3 separate regions of the Homo sapiens genome follow, and all the other regions are linked to region 3. Evidence: fine-mapped expression QTL. A gene starts in region 3. Each other region holds a variant in brackets. All regions are shown on one strand. Distances are between the middles of the regions.

Region 1 (8,178 bases), 63 kb after region 3:
TTTGTATTTTTAGTAGAGACGGGGTTTCACCGTGTTAGCCAGAATGGTCTGAATCTCCCTACCTTGTGATCCACCTGCCTCGGCCTCCGAAAGTGCTGGGATTACAGGCGTGAGCCACTGCGCCCGGCTAGAAAAACTTTTAATTAGAGACACTATAGGTTGGAAGTTAAGAAGATCATGGACTCCGGGGCCAGACTGTTTGGATTCCAAATCGGGCTCTGCCACTGACTATGTGACCCTGTGTAAGTTATTTAATCTCTCTGAGCCTTAGTTTTCTTTTCTGTGAAATGGATGTATTCATTGCTGTACTGTGGGGATTTGATGAGATAATGCATGCCAAGTATATAGAAAATGCATGTACCTACCAAGTGCTCATAGACGTTTGCTATAATTATTATTAAATAGTAACTTATGTCTGCTGTAGATGATATAATATGCAAAAGACATGGCCAGGCGCGGTGGCTCATGCCTGTAATCCCAGCACTTTGGGAGGCCTAGGCAGGCAGATTATCAGAGGTCAGGAGTTCGAGACCAGCCTGGCCAACATGGTGAAACCCCATCTTTACTAAAAATACAAAAAATTAGTTTGGCATGGTGGCACGCACCTGTAGTCTCAGCTACTCTGGAGGCTGAGGCAGGAGAATCACTTGAACCCGGGAGGCAGAGGTTGCATAAGCTGAGATCACATCACTGCACTCCAGCCTGGATGACAGAGAGAGACTCCATCTCAAAAAAAAAAAAAAAAAAAAAGAAAGAAGAAAAAGATATAAAAATCACTGGCAATGCTATTACTTTAATGTTCTTAGTAATCCAATAATAATGGATTATTTGCATATTTTATTTTTAAATTAATAAATGAGTATCAATCAAAATTTTAGAGGTATACAAGAATCTGTAGTGGAAAAATTTCCTTGATCTATCTCTTATGACCCAGTTCTCCCCAGGGGAAACATATATTATCAGTTTCTTGTGAATCCTTTCGGATTTCATACACACACACACACACACACACACACACACACACACACACCCCATAATGCACTATAGTAGAGTGACTATACTCATTGTTTTGTACCTTGCATTGTTCCCTTAGGTCTTGGGCTAAAGAGACATATTGAAATCCCTCATTTTTGTTTGTTATTGAATAGCATTATATAGAGAGAGGAGGATGCTGATAATGTATCATATTTTCATCAGCCTGCTACGGGTAGACTTGTAGAGTGTTTCCAGTCTTCTGCTGTTAGACTATTACAAGGAATATCCTTATGCCCATACTCAACACAGTTGCAAACATATCATCTGTAGGTAAATTTCATAGAAGTGGAATTCCTGAATCAGTAGGTAGGTGCAAAGTGTGCCTTAGTGTGGAGGGCAAGGGCAGGGGTTGGGAGTTCTGTTTGCAGGACCCTCCTCTGCCCATCCTGAGCACTCCTTTCTAATCATGGGTTCCTTGACCCGGATTACCTGGGCATGTTCGGATGCTAAATTGTGGGGCATGGATTGCTGCCTGTCCGGGGACCCAGAGGTGTCTCCTGCTGCTGTCCAGACCTCAGAACTCAGCCTACTGGGGGGGCCTTCAGCCTGACTGCCTATAGGAGAAGCCCAGGGAGGAGCAGCTGACCCCTTTTCCCAAGAAGCTGGGCCTGGTCCAGTATGAGCTCATGCCTGGAGCCAACCCAGCTTCCTTGGCCCTGCACCTGAGTTACCAGTGGCCCCCTTCCTCCAGCGTGGGCCCTTTGACTTGGTAGCATGAACGCGCGTGTTCCTGCCAGCCCAGTGGGGTCCCCTAGAGCTGTGGCACCTGGGAGGGGAGGGGCAGGGGGACAGTAGCCCCCTTAATCCGCTGAGGTTTGATCTCCTCCCAGGCACCTGAGTCGAATATCTTGGCTGAGCTGGTGGCTTTTGTTTATGGAGTGAGGGACTGTTGTGGAAATAGTCCCCAGCCAGCCCAGGTTGTGGTGGAAAACAGTTGGTTGCTCAGGCAACTTGACAACTTCAGTAGGATGGGAAAAAGGTTTTGTGAGGAAACTGCCACTGTTTTGTCTTCTCCTTTGCTTCCTGGACATAAGCACCATCCCTTATACCTCCAGTGGCACCCAGGCACCCCCAGCCTCTCCAGGGGCAACCCTGTCCTTTAGTATTCAATTTAACTCACAGTTATTGAGTTCTTGCTGTGTGCCCAGCTCTGTGCTAGGCTCTAGGGAATATGGAATGGTGATCAAGCCCAATGGATACAGAGTGTTAAATCTGGAATCGGACCTTCTGGGTTCAAATTTCAGCTTGGCCACTTAGCTGTGTGACCTTGAACAAGTTACTCAACCCTTCTACGCCTCATTTTTCTACTATGAAGTGGAAATAGCAGTAGTAATATGCACCTTGTAGAGCTGTAGGGAGGATGAAGAGAGTTAACATGCAATAAGGCACTTTGAGTAGTGGCTAGCATATAAGGAAGCAGGCAATAAGTGTTATCTATTCTCATTATGACTATTATGACCATTATCTTGCTAAGATGAACCAAACAAATGACATGTTTCTCTGCTGAGAAGCCTCATCTTGGATCTTTTTCACTAGAAGGCAGAATTGGCTTCTTGATGGTGCCTTTTGTGGCAGCCACACCTGATATTTGGGCCTCAGGAGCAGAGATGAATGATGATGTCCTTAGGACTGAGGCTCTGGGACCAATTTGTCCACAAGGGACCTCATTCACCTTCTCTGAAACCTCTTGCCCTCGTCCCTGCCCCACATCTCCCATTGGCTACAGACTTGGCCACAAGTGTTGAGGCAGGAGAGAGAAAAATTAGAAAAGAAAAGGTCTTTTTTGAATCGTATTTTTTCTTTTGATTTTTTTTTGAGACAGAGTCTCACTCTTGCTCAGGCTGGAGTACAGTGGTGTGATCTTGGCTCACTGCAACCTCTGCCTCCTGGTTCAAGTGATTCAAGTGCCTCAGCCTCCCAAGTAGCTGGGATTACAGGCATGCGCCACCACACTGGGCTAATTTTTGTATTTTCAGTAGAGACAGGGTTTTACCATGTTGGCCAGGCTGGTCTCAAACTCCTGACCTCAGATGATCTGCCCGCCTCGGCCTCCCAAAGTGCTGGGATTACAGGCATGAGCCACCAAGCCTGGCCTTTCTTCTGATTTTTAAAGATTAAAAACAATTTTTAAAGGAATGCCCCACCCTTACAGATCTAAGTGATAGGGGTGGGGGTGGCCAAGGCATCATGCCATGCCCAGCCTGCACAGCTCATGGAGTAGCCTTTGGAAGGCAGGGGCTGCCCCCAGCCTCACCCCTGCCGGCAGCTCTGCTGTGTGGGCATGGAAACCAGGTGTCCTGCTTCTCTGGGTGGCAGTGGGGCTTCTTCCTGGCAAAGAGGTTTAGGAGTCCTTTTATCAAATCCTCATGGTTTGGTTTTGTTTTGTTTTTGAGACGGAGTCTTGCTCTGTCACCCAGGCTGGAGTGCAGTGGTACGATCTTGGCTCACTGCAACCTCCACCTCCCAGGTTCAAGCAATTCTCTGCCTCAGCCTCCCGAGTAGCTGGAATTACAGGCACCCACCACCATGCCTGGCTAATTTTTGTATTTTTAGTAGAGACGGTGTTTCACCATTTTGGCCAGGCTGGTCTTGAACTCCTGATCTCGTGATCCACCTGCCTTGGCCTCCCAAAGTGCTGGGATTACAGGCGTGAGCCACTGTGCCCTGCCAAATTCTCGTGTTTTACAGATGTAGAAGAGATGAGTGGTCCAGAGAAGTACCCAAGGTCACACAGCAGCGCATGACAGCATTGTCTGTCTCTCCCCTGCTCCTCCTCCT[C/T]CTCCCCTAAGGTCCAGTGGCCTCTTTTCTCCAATGGCTGTGCCCGAGGGTCCTCTTTGCCCTTCCTGGCTGCCTGGGGGTGGGCACAGGTGTGGCTGCCCAGCAGCTCTGGGGGCCTCGGGAATGAGGCTGGCTTTGTTGCAGCCCCGGCAGCTGTGGCCATTTGGGTCGAGTTTCCATTAAGCCTTTTCCGAGCCTTGGGCAGGAGCAGGAGGCTCAGCGTTTAAAGGTCACCCGGCTTTTGAAGCTGCAGCGACATTAATAGCTTGGGAAGAAAACAAGCCTTTGCAGGGGCAGGAGGACAAGGCGTCTCTGTCAGGGCTGCCTGAAACACACACACACACACACACACACATACCCTGAGAGCCTCTGTCTCTTGCTCTCCTCTTCCCTTCCTTTCACCCCCTTTTGGGGCCTCTTCAGCTCTGAAGCCAAGAAGCTCAGGCAGATTTCCCTGCACCCCACCCGCTCTGAGGTGACAATTGGCCGAGAATGCAGCTGCCCCAGCCCAGCAGCCTCTGCCATTACACACTTGAGGTTTCCGCAGGACTCAACCATGGTTACACAAGCCTCCCAGGGTCATATGACCTCATTCTGGCCCCACTGGCTTTTGCAGCCTGGATTCCCAATGAGACAGAGTGAGCCTGGCCTGCGTGTCCTCATACGGGAAATGAGAGCGCTGGCAAGTGGCTTGTCTTGCATGCCAGTTCTAATCACTTGGTCGTGGCTTGCACAGAGGCGGTGTTGCAAAGGGTTCTGAGGTTGTGTGTGTTCTGTAGGACAGTAATACCTGGGTGGATTAGTGATGTCTGCCAAGGATGAGGGCTAGAAGGTGGTGGCACATGTGCCAAAGATTTCCTGCCTAGGATTAAATGATTTGACAACTCTGCGGGTCTTGGGTGCTAAGACCCCTGAGGCAACTGGGTGGTTCTTCTCCCTTTTAATCAGGCCAAGGGTGGGGGTGGGGCACATTCTTGGGTTCTGAGAGAAAAGCCACTCTGGCCCTTTCCCTGGGAGCTGCCAGGGCCTGAGCTCTGGGACACCACCTAGTGGCCTGGCTTGGCAGCGCCACTGGGCTGTGCCAGATCTTAGGCAAGAAGCAAATCCCTCTGCAGGCAGGCATCACGGCAGTCACAGATGGACGTAGGGTCTGCTCCTTGGTGATTTTCAGAGGAGGGAGCCTGGGGTGCACAGAGACAGAGCTGGTCTGAGGAGTCTTACCCTCCTTCCAGAAGAGTGGCCTCTGGGTGGGACACAGGAAGGTGCTGGCAATTGGGACCTGTGGCTTCCTGTTCTAACTCCCACCTTTCAGGGTTGGGCCCTGGTCCTCCTGGGGGGCAGAATGGAAGGTCAAGTCAGATCTAGGAGGGGGTTAGCCTCCTGCCCCCTGGTGCTGGCACTGGCTTGGAAAGGGGCAGCCTGCCATCAGCCTTGTGTCCACGTCACTGGGCTGCCTTGGCCTCAGACCCCTTGTCTGTGAAGTGAGATAATAACGCATTCCCTTATATATCTTCTAGGTTTGTTGTGAGGAGTAAATGAGTGTGTAGGGGAGAGAGGGCTTTGGAAACTGAAAAGGCCCCCTCCCATCATTGCTGTGAGCCGGAGGAGGAAGGAAAGGGAGGGAAATCCACAGTTACAGCACTCCTCCATCTTTCCTTCCCTTCTTTACTCATTCGCCTAATAAATGTCTATTGACCATGCCAGGCACTGATTCGGGCACTGGGGATACCACAGTGAGTATAGCAAAGCCCCTGCCTTCATGGAGCTTACATTCTAGTGGAGAAGATATCAGTGACAAATGTATAATATTCAAGGTGGTCTGTTTCATGAAGAAGACAGGGAAGCCTAAAGGGTTAGGAACACTGGGATGTTGGGGGGTGGACTTGCCACTCTGTTCCCCCTCAAGGTGATGGTTGAGTAGGGACCAGAAGGAAGGGAGCCATGCAGATATGTGGGAGCAGAACGTAGCAGTTGGTGGAAAAAGTAAGTTCAGAGGCCCCTGGGTGGGAGTGTGCTTGGCTCGTTGGTGGACTAGCAAGGATCCAGGTGGCCACAGAGAGTTAGGCTCTGTCTGTATGTGTGCGTGCACATATGACAGCGAGGTGACATGGGCAGGACCATGTGGGTTGGCCACGGTAAAGCTCTGGGTATTCTGGGGACATGGGAGCCATTGGGAGGCATGGAGCAGAGGAAGGGCATGACCCCTGTGATGAGGGGTCTCTAGGCCAACACGTGGGAGGCAGGGAGCTAGGGAGGGTATGGTAGCTGTGGAGGTGGTAAGGAGTGGCCAGATTCAGAAATCATTTGGAAGACGGGGAAGACAGGCTTCGCCATAGATTGGACATAGAGTATAAGAGAATGAGAGCACTCCAAGATGACTCCAAAGGTTTTGGCTGGAGCCAGGGAGAGTTGCCATTAACAAAGATGGAGAAGGCAGGGGAGAAGCAGGTTGGGGTCGGAGGGAATCACAGGTCGGATGGATCCATGTTGTTGGAGCTGCTGTTGGATGTCCAAGTGGAGGCAGCAAGAAGGCTGTATGAGTGTGGAGTTGAGGGGAGTGCCCATGAGAGGTTGGAGCACATGAGAGCCAGTGTTCAGTATGCAGATGGTATTCCAAGCCATGGGGCTGGATGAGATTGCTCAGGGAGTGAGTCTAGCCCGGGAAAAGGTCCCAGGCCTGTGCCCCAAGCCACAGCAGCCTGTGTCACTGGTGCTTATTATACGCCAGGTACCCATGTACGTTCTATTAATACTCCTCCCCTATGTCTACAAATGAGGGAGCTGAGGTGCAAAGAAATGAAACAATTTCCCCAAGTCACACAGCCTTACTAAGGTCACAAAGTGCACCCAGGACTCTGGCTCCCCAGCTCTCATAGCCCCCATGCAGACCCTCGCTGGCCCTGATGTACCAGGCAGGAGGCTGGCTGGGATGACCTTGGGCAAGGCCAGATGAACTGCACTGGGGCAGCTTGCCCACCTCCGTGGGCCAAGCCGGGAGTGACTCAGGCCTTGGCTGCGTGCTTATGCTAGGAGAGGAGGTTGGCTGTTTGCCGCCCCTGCCGGGCCTGGATTCCTTCACAGGGGAGGTGGAGGGCCACTGTGATCCTGGCTTCCTGGGACCTGGAGGAGGACAGGTGTGGGGTTTCTGCTTCCCAGTCTCCAGGTCATCCACAACCATGAGTTCAGGGGAGCCTTTGAGTCAGCCTCCGAGAGGTCTGATGAGCCCAGTGGGTTGTTTGCTTCCTTTTTCAGAAGCCAGTCAGGGGTTATGTCCCTCTGTTTCCCTGCCAGTGCTCAGCAGCTGGGGTTCTGAGAGGTGGTATGGTTTCTCCAAGGTCACAGAGCCAGCTCTGGAGCAGAGCCAAGAGACCTTGCTACCATGCTGTCTGGGTCATGTTTCCTGTGCTGAAATGTCCTCTGGGCTGTGCCCAGTCTCCTGAGCCTGGGGCACACATGGCTGAATTTCTTATGCTCCTTGGCTCATAGCCCTGTGAGCCTTACTTGGCATTTTTTGCCTCTTAGGAAGTGGGTTCCTATTCTGGCCTCTCCACATACTGGCTGTGTGACTTTGGGCAATTTACCCAACCTCTCTGAAATGGTTCCCACAGCTATGAAATGGAGACAGCAACACCTGTCTCATGGAGTTGTAATAAAGATTAAATGTGAAAGCATGTGGCACAGGCTCGTAAACCTGTCGCCTACTTGCTTTAATCCTTTCGTGTATTTTAAACTGCTTTTCATTTGAGCAGTGCTAGTTGCAAAAGGCAGCCTGGCATGGACGGCTCTGACCCTGCTCCCAGGCACACCACAGCCATGGCCTCAGACTCTGCCCTGAGCTTAGCCAGGGGGAGAGAGGGACAGTGCTCTGAGAATTGGGGGCCTCTATAGTCCACCTGGTTCTAACTATAGGCAGCCTGGGAGTCTCTGAGACCTTATAGAGTCCTGTGGAAATGGTACTTCTGGTAATCAAAATGCTTCCCATTACTGCTTCCTTGTGTTTCCCATTACTGTTTCTGAGCCACTCTCCTCATCCACAGAACCACCCTTTGATAGAAAAGTCTAGACTTTGCCTTTACTCGCTGTGTGTCCTTGGGCAACTCCCTCCTAGACTTGGGTCTCAGGCTCTTCACCTGTAATGTGAGGCAGGGTGTGGGGCTGGGCTGGAGTTGTCAGTCCTTTACATTTTGTGGTCCCCACAAGGATGCTTTCAAAGCTTTGCACTTGGGCCAAATGGAAGCGGCTGCTTGAGCTGCTGTGTCTCCAGTTGCCCAGGCCAGCCCAGCCTCCCCTGGGGCCATGAGGATCAATATTTCCTTACAGAGGGCTGAAAGAATTCCAGGGATTGACATCCAGGTGCTGGGGAAG
Region 2 (8,178 bases), 23 kb after region 3:
TGGGGGCGGGATGGGCTGGGGGTGCAGGAAGAAGCCCTGAGAAAGGATAGATAGGAGGCTAGAGGAGCAGTGCGCAGGAGAGTGGAGCTGCTGACAGAGGTGGATCTGAGCCTCACCCGGGTTGCGGCTCAGGTCTTTCTATTAATCCAGTTCTGCCAGCACAGTAGTGCCATGCTCTGTGGAAACAGCCCTGGAGCCAGCACTGCCTCCTCTCCTCCCGCTGCCCATCTGCATCCCAGCCACTGTCCCTGAGGCCTCAAGATGTGTTGAACCTTAGGGATGAGTCTGCAGAATCCTAGAAGTTGGGTGCCTCCTTCCCTGCCATCCTGGGCTGGGGGCTTGAGAGGCACCTGGTTGTGAGGGCTGGGATTAGAGTGCTTCCATTGCGAAACTGTGGAGCCTGGAGAGTTAAAAAATAAATGAAGAAGCTCTGACCACAGAGCAATTGGAGGGCTGAATTATTTAGAGCCTCTGCTCCCTCTGGCTTCTCCTGGGGAAGGGCCAAAGGAGGAATGTGGAGCCAGGGAGGGCTGAGCTTCCCTGGCCAGGCTTGTGCACTCAGGGGCCCTGGGAGTCCACACTGTCCTGCCATGTCCTCAGCCGCTTTTGTCCTTGGGTCACAAGGCCTCTGTGGTTTCCCGCAGCCCACAGGGCCTGACAGATTCAGGTTGAGGCTGAGAGGAGAGACCCTCCCTTTCCTCTTTGCCCCACTCCTGGTCTGGCCTCCCCTGATGCTGCTTGGCTCCAGGACATAGCGATAATGAATGACATAAATAAGTCATTCTCATTAGCAGCGGGTGGGTCACTGGCCCAGGAGACAGGACAGCAACAGCGGAGGTGGGTGTGGACAGGGCTGGTCAAGTCCCCTGGTCTTTCTCTCAGGAGCCCCAGAGGGAGGCTTAATCCTCTTTCAGTCTCTCCAGGATTATGTTTTCAGCTTGGGGGACTTGATGAAAATCCATGCTTCCAGCAGTCAAGGGGGCCCAGGAGAGGGGTGCCAGTAGGGTCCCCTAGGAAGGAATTGGGGTGGGACGGCCAGGCGCTGAGGCTGCTCCAGGCGGGCCTGGCCCGCCAAGGTGGACCGTGGCCATGGCAACCCCTGGCTGCACCCGGGGTAAACACAGGCTTTCAAAGGGGGCCTTGTTTTGTTCCCTGTGGAAGCCTTTCAGTTCCAGCCTGCTGGGGCTTTTCAAACCTCGGGAGGAAAGGGAGGGCAGCGGGGATGGGGCGGGCCTGGCTATGAGGAAATGTCACTCCTGGACCCCCTTCACCCCGGCCCCAGGCATATTTCCTGGAGGCCCCAGTTTCTAAAGCTCCTGCTTCTGGAGAATGAAAAGAAGAGTAAGCACCAGGAATGTGTCCAGTCTCTAGGCAACAGGGTGTGTGTGTGTGTGTTTGTGTGTGTGTGTGTGTGTGTGTGTGTCTAATGGAAGGGAGGGAAGCTTAAAAAAAAAAATCACTGTCACGCTGGTCACTCAGGATGGAAGCCTTCACTGCTCTACACTGATTTCAGCAAGCCAGCCAGGGCTGCCTGAAGCAGGTCTTTAAGGATTGCTCATCCTGTTGTCATGGAATATCAAATAAGTAAAATCTCAGAGAAAACACTAAACCATTCATTAAATGTAAGGTAAACACATTGGCAGTTTGCATTCTTGTGTATTAGTCAGTGAGTTTTAGTAAGAAAGCTGATTGCGGGCACTTGAATAGCCTTTGCTGTCTTGGGGAGCTTGGTCCCTGGATTCTATCCCCATCATTTTGTCTGTGAGCTTAACCCAAGTATAAAAATGGGGAACGGGCTGGGTGTGGTGGCTCATGCCTGTAATCCCAGCACTTTGGGAGGCTGAGGCAGGTGGATCACCTGAGCTCAGGAGTTCGAGACCAGCCTGAGCAACATGGCGAAACCCTGTCTCTATTAAAAATACAAAAATTAGCTGGGCATGGTGGGGCATGCCTGTAATCCCAGCTACTCGGGAGGCTGAGGCATGAGAATTGTTTGAATCTGGGAGGTAGAGGCTGCAGTGAGCCGAAATCACGCCACTGCATGCCAGCCTGGGCAACAGAGTGAGATTCTGTCTCAAAAAAACAATCGGGAAGGATGGCATGTCTGCCCCTCTAAGTATTCTCTATGTATCTGTTAAGGAATGAGTAGATAGCAAATGCACTTCCACTTCTTAAAAAAGATAGGGGTTCATATCCAAATATTGTCTTTCTTTCCTTTTTTTTTTTTTTTTTTTTTTTTTTTAGAGAGACAGGGTCTTGCTATATTGCCTAGGCTGGAGTACAGTGTCACAGTAATGGCTCACTATAACCTGGAATTTGTGGGCTCAAGCTATACCCCTGCCTCAGCCTCCCAAGTAGCTGAGACTACAGGTGTGCACCACCATGTCCGGCTATTTTTATTTTTATTTTTGAGACGGAGTCTTGCTCTGTTTCCCAGGCTGGAGTGCAGTGGTGTGATCTTGGCTCACTGCAACCTCCGACTCCTGGGTTCAAGCAATTCTCCTGCCTCAGCCTCCCGAGTAGCTGGGACTATAGGCACGTGTCACCACGCCTGGCTAATTTTTGTATTTTTAGTAGAGACGGGCTTTCACCATACTAGCCAGGCTGGTCTTGAATTCCTGACCTCATGATCCTCCTGCCTTGGCCTCCCAAAGTGTTGGGATTAGAGGTGTGAGCCACCGCACCTGGCCTTTATTTTTATATTGTAGAGAAGAGGTCTCACTATGTTGCCCAGCCCAGGCTGGTCTCAAACTCCTGGGCTCAAGCAGTCCTCCCACCTTGGCTTTAAATATTCTTTCTTGACACTGCATTCCTCTTTGCCTTGTCTGAAGAGGTGGTGAGCAGGATGGGGAGGGGAGCAGGAGGCAGATATGACTGCATCTGTTAACATTGGGCTGGCCTCTCTCAGCCAGGTCCCCAGATGCTCCTGGGGAGTCTTGAAGGAGGTGTAGGGAGAAAGATCCCAGCCCATAAGTCGGGCTCCAAATAGAGGTGTTCTGGGCCTGTGTTCATTTGTTCTCGAGTCACTGTCGGCCTGGGGAATGCAGCATCCGATCTGGTAGACTAGAGTTTACTGCTGAAGACCCCAGCTTCATGCCTTCCAGTCTGGCCGGGAGAGGTGGGGCTGAGGAAGTATGAGTATACCTAGCCCTGCATCCCTGCAACTCAGCAAGCTTTCCCCACAGCTGGCAGAGAGCAGTCTCGTTCCAAGGCTAGATCAGGTGGCTGGGTCCTCCTGGATTCCCATCTCTTCTGTCCCTTCCTCCCTTTGCAAATTCTCCCTTGTCATATGCTGTTGAACTGGGGGAGATGAAAGTGGCTTCTTCATCTGAAATTGGGGTGGAGGGGGGCTCATGAACTTGCCCAGCTTTTTTGATTAGTATAAAATAAGAGGCACTGCATACAGCTTTGTGGAGACAGGGAAAAAGAAGATATGGTTCCTGCTTCTGGAGAGATTTGGTCTAATGG[AGG/G]AACCGACCAACACGTTAGAACATCAAGGCTATATAAAGTTACAGACATTGTTGTTTACTTGTAGAATCTTAGACTGGCTAAGAGATCCAAAATGTCCAGAGCAGCTCTGTTCAGTGGTTCTCCCCCCTTGCTGCCCGTGAGGCTGTCTGATTCTGCTAGTGCTGGGTGGGGCCCAGGCAGGGGTAAATTTTATACATTGCCCAGGTGTTTCTATTGGGCAGCCAGGGTTGAGAACCATCTATCTAGTGCAGTGGTTCACAAGTGGGGATCATCTGGCCCCCCAGGAGACATTGGCAGTGTTACAACTGGGGGTGATGTTGCTACTGGCATTTGTGGGTAGAGGCCAGGGATGCTGCTCAACATCTTCCAATATACAGGACAGCCCCTTACTCTCTAGCCCAAATGTCAATAGTGCCTAAGGTTGAGAACCCTTGCTCTAGCGCCTGGACCAGACTTTTTTTTTTTTTTAAGACAGAGTTTTGCTCTTGTTGCCCAGGCCAGAGTGCAGTGGCACAATCTCGGCTCACTGCAACCTCTGCCTCCTGGGTTCAAGCAATTCTCCTGCCTCAGCCTCCCAAGTAGCTGGGATTACAGGAGCCTGCCACCACGCGCAGCTAATTTTTGTATTTTTAGTAGAGATGGGGTTTCACCATGTTGGCCAGGCTGATCTGGAACTCCTGACCTCAAATGATCCAACCACCTTGGCCCTCCAACAGACTTTTTTTTTTTTTTTTTTTTTTTTTTTTGAGACAGAGTCTTGCTCTGTCACCCAGGCTGGAGTGCAGTGGCGTGATCTCTGCTCACTGCAAGCTCTGCCTCCTGGGTTCACAACATTCTCCTGCCTCGGCCTCCCGAGTAACTGGGACTACAGCACCCGCTGCCATGCCCGGCTAATTTTTTTGTATTTTTAGTGGAGATGGGGTTTCACCATGTTAGCCAGGATGGTCTCGATCTCCTGACCTCGTGATTTGCCCATCTCGGCCTCCTGAAGTGCTGGGATTACAGGCGTGAGCCACCATGCCTGGCCTTTTTTTTTTTTTTTTTTTTTTGAGACACAGTGTCACTTTGTTGCCCAGGCTGGAGTGCTGTCGCGCGATCTCGGCTCACTGCAACCTCCACCTCCCGGGTTCAAGAGATTCTTGTGCCTCAGCCTTCCGAGTAGCTGGGATTACAGGCATGTACCACGACACCCAGCTATTTTGTGTGTGTGTGTGTGTTTTTAGTGGAGACGGGATTTCACCGTGTTGGCCAGGCTGGTTTCGAACTCCTAACCTCAGGCGATGTGCCTGCCTCAGCCTGCCAAAGTGCTGGGATTACAGGCATGAGCTACCACTCCCAGCCTAGAGATGCGTTTTAAGCAGAATTCTGAGAGAGGGAAGGACACATGTGGGTGAGAGGAGCAGGGTGGGGGCATCGTGTAGGGAAGCAGCACATGGCAGGGTTTGGAGGTGGGAGAATACGATTTGATTTTTGCAAAGGAGAAAGAGGCTCGTGGTTTCACGGGAGTCCTCTGCAATCCAGAGGAGGCTTTTCAGCCGGATCCTCCCTGGATTCGGGACTGTGTCTTATTGAGACACCTTTGGTTGGGACATGAAGTCCCTCTGACTGTGTTCCTTTGTGTGTTCCTAACCCTCAGGCCTTTCTTGGCCCTGTGTGAGTAAAGAGAAGGAGATCTGTCAGCCACCATCAACTTGAATACCCAGTCTCACCCTCGGACTGGCTTTCCCTGAGTCCATGCATATGTGAGAGCTTCTGCCCAGGAACTCTCTTTCCCCCCACTGCAGGAACAGCAGTGCCCTTTGACTTAGTTAATGCCCTCATGACCCCTTTTTTGCTTATTCCCCACTTCTTTAGAGGAGGGTAAGGAGAAGGCCCCAGCCTGTGCCTCTATGCCCACTTCCTGACAGTGCCCGGCATGTGGCAGTGGCTTCATCAGTGTTTTTGAATGAATGAGCGACTGCCCGGAATGAATGGGAGATCTGGGGTTTTTCCTGCGAATTGTACCTCTCCCTCTTTTTTTGTTTGTTTCTTTTTTCTTTCTTTCTTTTTTTTGAGACAGGATGTCACTTAGTCACCCAGGCTGGAGTGTGAACACAGCTCACTGCAGCCTCGACTTCCCAGGCTCAGATGATCCCACACTTCAGCCCCCAAGTAACTGAGATTATAGGTGTGTGCCACCACCTCCAGCTAATTTTTGTATTTTTTGTAGAGACCCTGTTTTGCCATGTTGCCCAGACTGGTCTCGAACTCCTGAGCTCGAGTAATCTGCCTGTCTCAGCTTCCTTAAGTGCTGGGATTACAGACAGGAGCCACCACACCCGGCCAGCTCCTTTAATAAGTCATTCAGTCCTTGTGCCAGAAATGGAACTAGGAGAGACTGAGGTTGGCACTAAGGAAGAAGGTCTTTAGTGTCCTTTAGTGTCAAGAATTTCCAGGGAGTAGAGCAGGTCATGAGAAGGTTACCTGCAGGAAATGGGGACCATTTCCCCTTTGGAGTTGGACTGTTTGTGGCTCTTTCTGGCTACAGGAGCGGTCACAGAGGGGTCATTTCTGCCCTCCTGTGTTGGCCACAGCACATCCCTTCCTCCCAGGCTTCCAGCTCTTAGATTTCTCAGCTTTCACGATAGATGTGGATATCTTCTTTTTAAGAAGTAGAAAGTGCTGTCCAAACACACGTGTGTAGTGATTCTCCCAGGCCATCACTGTTGGAGACCCAGCTTCAGTCTGGCTTGAGCAGAACCAAAGAAGTGGGCACAGTTTTCTCAAAATCCTCCCTCCTCTTGCTGTGGTTGTGGGTAGCGTTCCTCGCAATGTTTGCAAGTGCTTCTGAGCTGCTTTTCTCTGCCTTCTGTTAAACCCCTGGGACGGAGAGGGCTTTGGTTTCTGACTCAGGATAAAAGGGCCCCTGGGCATCCCAGACTCAGCCTGGAGTTGGGGAAAGGTGTTTGTAAGGGCTACCTTCTGGCCTCCTCACAGCCAGTGCTAACTGGTGAGCCTTTGCTGGAGTCCGACTTGTTTGCCAGGTGGAGTTCACAGCATCAGCCTCGTTGGCTCTGGTCTGCTTGTGCAGTTGGAGACTTGCTACCCAAAGTCAGGTCCCTAGACCAGCAGCGCTGACATCACCTGGTTAGAAATGGAGAATCACGGGCCCCACCTTGAACTTCCTGAATCTATCTACATTTTAACAAGGTCCCCAGTGGTTCGTGTGCACATTAAAGTCTGAGAAGTGGCCGGGCGCAGTGGCTCACGCCTGTAATCCCAGCACTTTGGGAGGCCGAGGCGGGTGGATCACCTGAGGGCAGGAGTTCGATACCAGCCCGACAAACATGGTGAAACCCTGTCTCTACTAAATACAAAAAAAATTTGCTGGGCGTGGTGGTGCCTGCCTGTAATCCCAGCTACTCGGGAGGCTGAGGCAGGAGAATTGCTTGAACCTGGGAGGCGGAGGTTGCAGTGAGCCAAGATCGCGCCACTGCACTCCAGCCTGGGCAACAAGAGCGAAACTCCGTCTCAAAAAAGAAAAAGAGAGAGAGAGACAGACTGAGAAGCGCTGTGCTAGAAGACTTTGGATGCTGCAGGGACAGCTGGGGACGTGCTGAACCTTGTTTGAGTGTCTTGTATGACCCGTCTTTGCAGTGCTTTAAAACAGTGCTTCTCAAAGTATCTGAGGTGAAGGACAATATGCTCTATTCCTTAGTTCAGGAACCGATGAGCATGACCAGTCTGAGCCAGTCTGAGAACATCCAGACTGGTCTATACCCTGTTCTAAGAGGGAAGTCCACAGATCACATGCTTGGATATTGTGCTAAGGTCAGATTGCTAGAAACATTTTAAAATCCTTCCTTCCTTTCTTTTTCTCTACTTATTTGGTAAGGACCCACAACTAACAGTTTGTAGGTGGTCTGTGGACATACTTTTAGTGGCCCTGGTCTAGAGCCCTGTCTTTGGGGTCAGATAGATCCAGGTTTGAATCCTGGCACTGTCACTGACTTGCGGTGTGTTCTTGGGCGGCTGTTTAACCTCTCTGGGGCTTAATTTTGTCATCTCTAAATTGGAGATGATAATGCCCCTGCCTCATAGGGCAGGGGTGAGGATTAAATGAGATAAGTTTGGGTAAAGCTTATCGTTAAGAGCCCAGCACACAGAATTTGGGCTTGATAATATTGGGTGTCAAATGTTGGCAGCAGCATCATTGTCATTGTTTGCTGTCTTGGAGCATCTGGAAATGAGGACAATGGCCTCAGTTAAGGAACACCCTTGTTTTTAGACAGACGGTGGCCTTTAAAACTGTGGCAAATTAGTATGGAATGGAAACTTTTTTTCCCCGCCTGCTAATTTCTGATAGTTTGGGGCTGCCGTAATGAATTATTTTTCTCAGTGTGGATCCAAGTAAAACCCAGGATCAGAATTGGGACAATGTTGGAACTTGTTTTTAAGTGATGGAAAGAAGTAATAAACACAGAGTAGGAAATCCTTTAATCCCACAGGACCTGACTCTTAACCCTTTCCCTCCCGCCCCCCACCCCGAGTTTATATCCTGGATACTGTCTCCCAGGCAGGCTGGGTGGACTTTCAGTGCCAGGTACCTCTAATTCTCGAATGCCAGTATATTCTCCCTTTCTGGAGAAACTCAAGTTGCCCTCTTCGCTATTTCTTGATAGCAAAGAGGTTGCGTGAAAACGTAGAGGACTCAAATCGGAAGATCTG
Region 3 (8,178 bases):
ATGTGGTTGGTCGCAGAGCCGCAACTGTCTGCTCTCCTTATCAACCATTCATGCCCTGGCATTTGCCCTGGGCTGGGGGACCTTCAGAAGGGAAATGTCCTGTTTTCCCCACGGTCCGATCAGAGCTCACCATTTCCAAGCCTGAGCCCAGTGGCTCTCCATCAGCCTCATTCTCACAGTAGATAATGCCATATGCTCCAGCGATCTGAGCTTCATACAGCCACAGACTTAGCAAAAGGCTTCCATCACCTTCACATTCAGTCTGTGGAAACAGCAAGTGTTCTTGGCTGGTTTTGTTTGTTTGTTTGAGATTGAGTCTCGCTCTGTCACCCAGGCTGGAGTCAAGCACGATCTTGGCTCACTGCAACCTCCACCTCCCAGGTTCAAGCAATTTTCCTGCCTCAGCCTCCCAGGTAGCTGGGACCACAGGCGCCTGCCACCACGCCTGGCTAATTTTTGTATTTTTAGTAGAAATAGGGTTTTACCATGTTGGCCAGGCTGGTCTCGAACTCCTGGCCTCAAGTGATTCACCCGCCTCGGCCTCCCAAAGTGCTGGGACTACAGATGTGAGCCATGGTGACTGCCCTGTTCTTGGCTGGTTCTAGCCCGGGAGTGGGTGGGTGGCATGAGGACAGAAAATGGGAAGAGCTGGAATGGAAGTTAAGGGCAGCCTGGGAAGGGCCTCTCTCAGGAGTTTAAATTTCATTCTCCAAGCAATGGGAAGTCATCCACCTTGTTCAGCAGTGCAGAGACATCACCGGTTTGTACATTAGAAAAGTAACTGCTGGCACTGAAAAGGATGGATTGAAAGGCAGGGCCCTGGCAGCAGGGCCTGAGCCAGGGCAGAGGAGAGGGGGCAGGTTCCAGAGAAACTCAGAAGCAGAAAGCCCTGAGTTTACTGAGGGGGTTGAATGTACGAGGGGAGGAAGGCAGCATGTAACATCTGCAGCTTGAGCGAATGGGAGGTGCTGCTTATCCAGGACAGAGAATTCTTGCAAAGGATGTGGAGATGATGGGCTCCAGGCTCCCCGCACTGAAGGTGCAGTGGCTGTGGGACAGCTTGTCCAATGGCAGTAACACATGCCAGTCAGGGGCTTGAGAGAGGGAGTGGGGTGCTCGGACAGGTCATCAGCACACTCCACTAGGTGCAGAGGGGGTAATGTTATTAATAAAACTTGGCTGGGCACGGTGGTCCACGCCTGTAATCCCAGCACTTTGGGAGGCTGAGGTGGGCAGATCACCTGAGGTTGGGAGTTTGAGACCAGCCTGACCAACATGGAGAAACCCCGTCTCTACGAAAAATACAAAATTAGCTGGGCGTGGTGGTGCATGCCTGTAATCCCAGCTACTCGGGAGGCTGAGGCAGGAGAATCGCTTGAATCTGGGAGGTGGAGGTTGCAGTGAGCCAAGATCATGCCATTGCACTCCAGCCTGGGCAACAAGAGCGAAACTACGTCTCAAAAACAAAACAAAACAAAACAAACAGACAACAACCAAAAAAAAAAAAAAAAAAAATAGCCGGGTGCGGTGGCTCATGCCTGTAATTCCAGCACTTTGGTAGGCCATGGCGGGCGGAGGTCGGGAGTTTGAGACCAGCCTGGCCAACATGGTAAAACCTCATTTCTACTAAAAATAAAAAAATTAGCTGGGCATGGTGGCGTGCACCTGTAGTTCTAGCTACTCGGGAGGCTGAGTTGGAAGAATCGCTTGAACCTGGGAGGCAGAGGTTGCCGTGAGCCGAGATCGCGCCACTGTACTCCAAGCTGTACAACAAGAGCGAGACTCTGTCTTAAAAAAAAAAAAAAAAAAAAAAATATATATATATATATATATATATATATATATATATGCAGTCTGCAAGTGGAGCCATGAGGGGTTGGTACCTGCCCCACTCTATTCCCCCTGTGAGAACATCTGGAAAGAGGGGTTGGTTAGAAAGTTAGAGGACTCAGCCTTGGAGAAACCCCTGGGGCAGGCAGAGCTGAAGAAATGAGGGAATGGATAGAAAGACGCAGAGGCTAGGAAGCCATGAGGGTGGGAATGGTTTCAAGGAGGCGTTAGCAACATCCAGGGCTCCAATGGAGTGAAGGAATGGGATAGGGAGGAGGCCCATGGGTTGAAACAATGAGGAGCCTAAGGTTGCCTCCCTTGGAAAGGCATCTTCCCCTAGAAAGATGCCGGTGCCTCCCTGTAAAAATCACCTTCCCCTAGGATGAAGGGGAAGAAAGTCAGATTGTAGGAAGTTGAGGATTGAATAGGGCTTGAAGAAGCAGAGAGTGGGTCTGGTTGCTTCTTAGGGGAGGCCTACTGATGAATGCAGAAGAGAGAAACAGGGCAATGACTTGAGGGCAGGGCAGGGTTGGGGCCAGGTTCCCTTAGAAGGGGGTATCCTGAAGTGTTTGTAGTTTTGAAGCAGAGGGGAGGAGAAAGAAGAACTAACAGAGTTTCCTGAAGCACATAGGAGGTTGGGCTGGAAAGCAAAAGGGACATCTCTGGAAGAGCAGAGACAATAGGGCCTGAACCAGGCAGAAGTGGAGGAGTGAGGCGGTGAGAGAAGGAGAAATGAACAGGATCTGATAACCAGTGGAGGGCCAGGGAAGCTGCACAGGAGACAGAGGCTTCCAGCCTCTGAGCCAGAGGTGGATTCAGGAGAGTAGGAGGAGGTGGCTTAGGTAGGGAAGCGGTCTCAGTCGCCTTTAGCCTCCTTGAGTTTTAGGTGTCTGGGAGACTCACAGGTGGCCCTCTGTAGGCGGCTGGTGTGAGGGGCTGGAGCCCTGGGGGCTCAGAGGCAGTGGTGGGAGTGGGTGGAGGTGTCTGGGGGTGGGGAAGTTGTGAGAGGCAGGGAAGGGGTCTGAGAAAAAGCTTCCAGAAGGACAGACCCAAAAGGAGGAGTATGTTAGCAAAGCCCAAGAAAAGTGTGCTTCAAGGAAGAGTGTCCATTAGAGCAACTGGTTTTATTAATGACTATAATAATAATGTATTTAAAAATTTTACTAGCCGGGCGTGGTGGCACCCACCTGTAACCCCAGCTACTCAGGAGGCGTAGGCAGGAGAATTGCTTGAACCTGGGAGGCGGAGGTTGCAGTGAGTTGAGATCGTGCCACTGCACTCCAGCCTGGGTGACAGAGCGAAACTCCGTCTCAAAAAAAAAAAAATTATGAGCAATCCATAGGCGAGTGCAAATGGAAATCTCCAGGTTTGCAGATGCATTTTTCTGCTCCTGAAATGCCAAGGTGACAGGAATGAACTGCAGAGGGATCTTGCAAGTAAGCAGGAAAGTGACAAATGAACTGCACTATGGGTAAGTGTAAGGTAATACACTTGATAACATAATCTAGACTATATTGGCCAGGCGGACAAATCCTGAGCTCTCAGTTACAACCTGGGAAAGGAGCCAGGAGTCAGTATAGAGGCATGGGTCTGTCCCTTCGGATTAAGAATCTTTAACCTGGGGCCTGAAGACCATCTTCTGGGATTTCAAGCACCCTGCCTCCCCCGGAAATTGAATGCACCAGGGAGTGAAGTGTGGGGAGAGAGGAGCAGGAGAGAGGAGATCCTCAGAGGGGTTTGGAAACCCAGTCCTGGAGTTCCGTTCAACATGCTAACCTAACGTTGGGCCTCCCCGAGGAGGGTGTGGTTCTGAGGTTTCTCCCCCTCCCAGTTTCCCACCTTGCTGAAGAAACTTGCCCTTGACATGCAAATGATGGAAACACATTGGTGTCTGGGGCACTTTGGTTTGTGGTTTTTACCATCAGCTGTCTCTGAGGCTGAGCGTGTCGATCTGTCTCAGCAAGGCTAGCAAATTGCAAGCGCTCAGAGGAGGGGAGAGGGGGGCTATTCCTGGGGTTCTGGGCCCAGATGGGCAAATGGGTCTGTAAGGCAGACTTTTCCAGGAGGAGGGTGCAGACCCTTTGCAAGTTGTTTGGGGACAGAGCTTAGTTTGCATCTGGCCTTCTTCACCCTCCTCAGATCCCCTAGGTAGCAGGGTGCTTGGTGGTCACCACCTGACCTAGGCTACCTACTCCCAAATTGGAGTCTGAAATGAAAGCACGTGGGAAAAGTATAGCAAAGGTCAGTTTCCCATTTATTAAACAAGTTCTTCCGTGGAAAATCTTCCCAGGGCTCAGCAGCCCTTGAAGTGATCAGGGATGCTGGGGAGGTTGGGGGAGGAGAAAATGGGAGATGGCAGGTGGTATCTGTCGGTGTGGACGAGTGATAGCTTTGATTTGCTCCCCCTTCCCACCATCTCCTGTGTCCTCAGCATTTGATTTGGTTTCCTTTCCGGGGCCCTAATTCCAGGGAGGTGCCCCTCCTCCACACCTGTGTCCCAAGCCCCAGCTGTGCGTCCTCACCCTGGGTTCCTGGCACTGACCTGGAACCTGTCGGGCAGCCCTGCTCTTAGCTCCCCGCGGAGTCTCGGAGGTCTCAGGTCTCCTCCGCCCACCCTCTCCGCAGCTGGGAGGGGCAGGATGCCCCGCACCCCGCTCTGCGCGGGAGGTCGAGGCACCCCGCTCACGCCCTCCTGCCCGCAAGCTAGGGAGTCACTGCGGCCGGGGAGGGAGGTACACGGAGGGCATTTTTCCAGCCTTCACTGGGTGCTCCCCTCTCCACCCCCGGCAACCATGTAGGTTTCCGGACCCCCAGGTCCGCTTCCCTCCTCTCTGGAAAGGGGTCGGCCATAGGGAAAGGGCCCGGGGGCGCCGCAGCCGGGCCCCCGCCCCGCCCCGCCCGCAGCCCCGCTCCTCCCCGCGCGGCCCCACTTGTGGCCCTGCCGGCAGCCGCGCAGGGACAGCTGCATTTCTCGCCGCCCGCCGCTAGGAAGCCGGCCTCGCCTCACTTTCTCCGCCTCCCCGCGCCCCAGCCGCGCCGCCGCCGCCGAGCCTGGCCCCGCCGCCACCGCTGCGGATTGCAGCCCCTCCCCCGCCCGGCCCGCGGCCCGGCCCCTGCGGCCCGCGCGGAGCGGACGCGCGTGGCGCTGCCCGGTAAGACCCCCGCGCTCCCGCGGCTCCCGCCCGGCCCCGGGCGCGGTCCTCGCCGGCGCCCCGCGCGCAATCCCGGCCGCGGCCCCGGCCCAGCGGCCCCACCTTCTCGGGACCCGTTGCCCAGGCGCCGCCGGGAGGGCCGGGCCGTCGCGAGTTTGATTCCCGGGGCTGTCGGCGCGGCTCCCCGGGAGCTCCGCGTGCGGCAGGTCCCCGCCCGCCCTTCCTTCCCGAGCCCCCACCTCATCCCGGGCCCCGGGCGCGGGGGGCGTGCGGGCATCTGGGGGGCCGGGAGCGGGGCGCGCGATTAGACCGGGGGGCGCGGGCCAGCGCCGCAGGGAAGGGAGACGAGGCCTCCCGGAGCCGGCTTCGCCCGAGTCCCCTCTCCCGCCGCTCCCCCTTTTGTGTGGGCGCCCCTCCCCGCAGTGCCCGGGCCTGGGGGCGCAGGCTGGGCGGCGACGGCAGGCGGGGGCGCCTGCTGGGAGCCGAGCGCCTTTCAGGGGGAGGGGAGCTTCGCTTCCTGCCCCCCGCCGATGTCACAGGTCGGCTCAGCCTTTTTTGGTCCCTCCCGGTCCCCTGGGAGCTGTATCTCCCGTCAGCTCGGCCAGGGAAAGTTGGGAATGCGCTGTCCCCGCCCCTGCTCGCCCGCCCCGCCGGCTCCTGTGCCCCAGGCTCTGAGCTCCAAGGGGGGCTGGTGTCAGCGTTTATTCATTCCTCCCTCTTCCTTTTCTCGGTCGCGTGGTCGCCTTACACCCAGCACTGCCCTGCCCATTTCTTTTCCCCTTAAAAAAAGTTTTAGCTCTAAGAAACGTACACTGAAATTAAATTCCTGAGACGGAATGTGTTTTAAGGGGAGGGAGGGTTTAGATTTTCCTTTTTTTGGTGGAGTAGTGGAGTAGAAGATGAGGGGACTCCCTGGGAGTTTAGAAACAAGATGCCCTGGAGGCGATAGAGGATACAAGAAGACCATCCACCGTGCTCCCCACCTGATCCGCAGTCAGCGTCTTGTAGCGAGAGGAATGAGCCTTCCCTGGGTGATCCCGCAGCACCTGAGCCACCTGGCCCAGGAGAAAGGACTCAGGGAGATGTACTGGGCCTTTCACCCCTTTTCTTTATAGCCAGCTGTGCCTGAAGGAGGTGAGGGACCCCAGGAATTCTCTCACGGAGGAAGTCATCTCACCATGTGGTTGGGCCCCTGCTGGATCAAGTGTGAAGCTGGGTCCTCTCTGTTGTTGGGGGTCAGTGCCACTGGTACCTCAGTTTGAATATGGTGCCATCTCTGGGATGGAGAGGTGCTGCTGGGAGAAACCTGGCTCGGGTCTCCAGGAAGCTGGAGCGTGTGCAGCAGGGCTGGGTGTGAAACCCGCTGTCCACTTTCTGCAGCTGGAAGGGCCAGGACAAGGGAAACAGGATACTGCTACCGACCTGGGCACATCCTTGAATAGAAGAGAGACCCTGGACAGCGAGGATGGCCCAGGGATGTTGATATGACTAGGGCTGTATCCCCAGCTCCTGGGCCAGGCCAACTAGGGCCAGAGGTTGGAGTCATGGGCCCCTTTGAGAATCTGGTGAAAGCTCTAACTCCTCTCCTTCCAAAATGCATGTGTGTAGGGAGACACCTGTATTCAACACCAGACGGTTAATATACCCCCTTGGAACCAGGACCTCCATTGAGACCTCTGCCCTAGAGTTACTGGTCTGACCTGGGCCATCAGAACAGTTGTCACCTTTTTGGCTGGTCAGTGAATAATCCCAGGGTTCAAAGAGCAGACTGCTTCTAAGGTCTTTTCTCATGACCTCCCTATGCAACTTTGGGCTTGTGGCCATGGAGACCTGGAGTGTCTGGACAGATCCCAGCTCCCTACAGCTAGCTAGAGGATGGGGGCAGATGAGGTGGCCCTTTTCCAGGGGCTCATTTTGCTGTCTGTGTGGTGGGAAGGCCCTGGGCACTGGACTAGGCCCACTGGTCTATTGAATTAGAGGTAAATAAAGGGATTTGGGTGGAGGTGGATATTCTGGTGTTTCAGCTGGGTGTGAGATCCAGGCCTTTAAGAGCTCCAGCTTGTTCTTGGGGAAATGGGGTTGAGGTGCTTTAGTAGAGAGTGTTAAGTGTGAAAGACGACTCTTAAGGAGGTCTTGGGGCAGAATTGTCCAAGGCTATGATCTGGGTGTTGTCGGTTCCTTAGATCCCTTTGGACTCTTGAAGGCAAGTGGGGGCCAGAGGGCTGCTGTCACTATCCCCAGTGCAGCCCCAGGCCAGAGGAGGCCTGGCCTGCCTTTCCTTTCTTGGCTCACTGGGTCCTGGGCTGCTGCATAGGTGTTTGTGGCATCTACACTTGCTAGGGATCTGGAAGAGCTTTAGGACGATCTGCCATTTGTGACTTCTCTACCTTGGGACTGAGAAGACTTCCTTAGGCTCAAGTCCCCCACAGAGAGCTGTAGGGGATTTTTCTTTGTTTAACTAGAGAGCACAGTGTTTGGCATATGGCAGCACTCACACTGGTATTCTTCCTTTAGAGCTTCCTACATTTGCTCTGGTAATAAGCAGCAGAGGCAGGAGTATTCTAGAGCCTTGGGGCACAGGAAGCTGGGTGTCTGACAGGGGTCACCTCTGACTATCCAAGGTGAGCTGGAGGAGGTGGTGCTTCTGTGTTGCTGGCTCTTGCACTTACAGGAAGCAAGAGCTATAAAGGGCATTGGAGGCCGGATGCGGTGGCTCATGCCTGTAATCCCACCACTCTGGGAGGCCGAGGGGGGTGGATCACCTGAGGTCAGGAGTTTAAGACTAGTCTGGCCAACATGGTGAAACCCCGTCTCTACTAAAAATACAAAAATTTGCTGGGTGTGGTGGCGTGTGCCTGTAATCCCAGCTACTCAGGAGACTGAGGCAGGAGAATTGCTTGAACCTGGGAGGTGGAGGTTGCAGTGAGCCGAAGTTGTGCCATTGCACTCCAACCTGGATGACAAGAGCAAAACTTTGTCTCCAAAAAAAAAACATAAATAAATAAATAAAATAAAATAAAATAAAATAAAATGAAGGGCATTGGAGACCCTAAAGCGCTGTGGTCCAGTGGTCCTTGACTTGGGAATTGAAAGTGTCTTGGTGGCATGCAAAGTCCTTGTTGCAGTGACTGAGGATTCACCTTCCCCAGTGGCCATGACTTCTCAGTCATGCTGTGGCCCTGGCTACCATGGGTTG

Evidence for each region. PIP is the estimated chance that this variant, and not a neighbour inherited with it, causes the effect.
Region 1: its variant is fine-mapped to the expression of CUEDC1 in whole blood (TOPMed, PIP above 0.99).
Region 2: its variant is fine-mapped to the expression of CUEDC1 in whole blood (TOPMed, PIP above 0.99).

The regions. Positions count from the first base shown.
Region 1 is chr17:57,889,340-57,897,517 of GRCh38, reverse strand. All of the region lies in intron 1 of CUEDC1 (CUE domain containing 1), which reads left to right. Among named protein-coding and RNA genes, the nearest start is that of CUEDC1-AS1, 19 kb to the left of the region's middle. RefSeq lists enhancers at 4,499-4,548, 4,209-4,950. The variant C/T (reference allele first, on the strand shown) is at 3,814.
Region 2 is chr17:57,928,624-57,936,801 of GRCh38, reverse strand. All of the region lies in intron 1 of CUEDC1 (CUE domain containing 1), which reads left to right. Among named protein-coding and RNA genes, the nearest start is that of CUEDC1-AS1, 21 kb to the right of the region's middle. The variant AGG/G (reference allele first, on the strand shown) is at 3,469.
Region 3 is chr17:57,952,029-57,960,206 of GRCh38, reverse strand. It overlaps CUEDC1 (CUE domain containing 1), which reads left to right and starts at 4,795. Exons shown (of 11, transcript NM_001271875.2): 1 at 4,795-4,982. RefSeq lists a silencer at 4,871-4,940 and an enhancer at 7,229-7,730.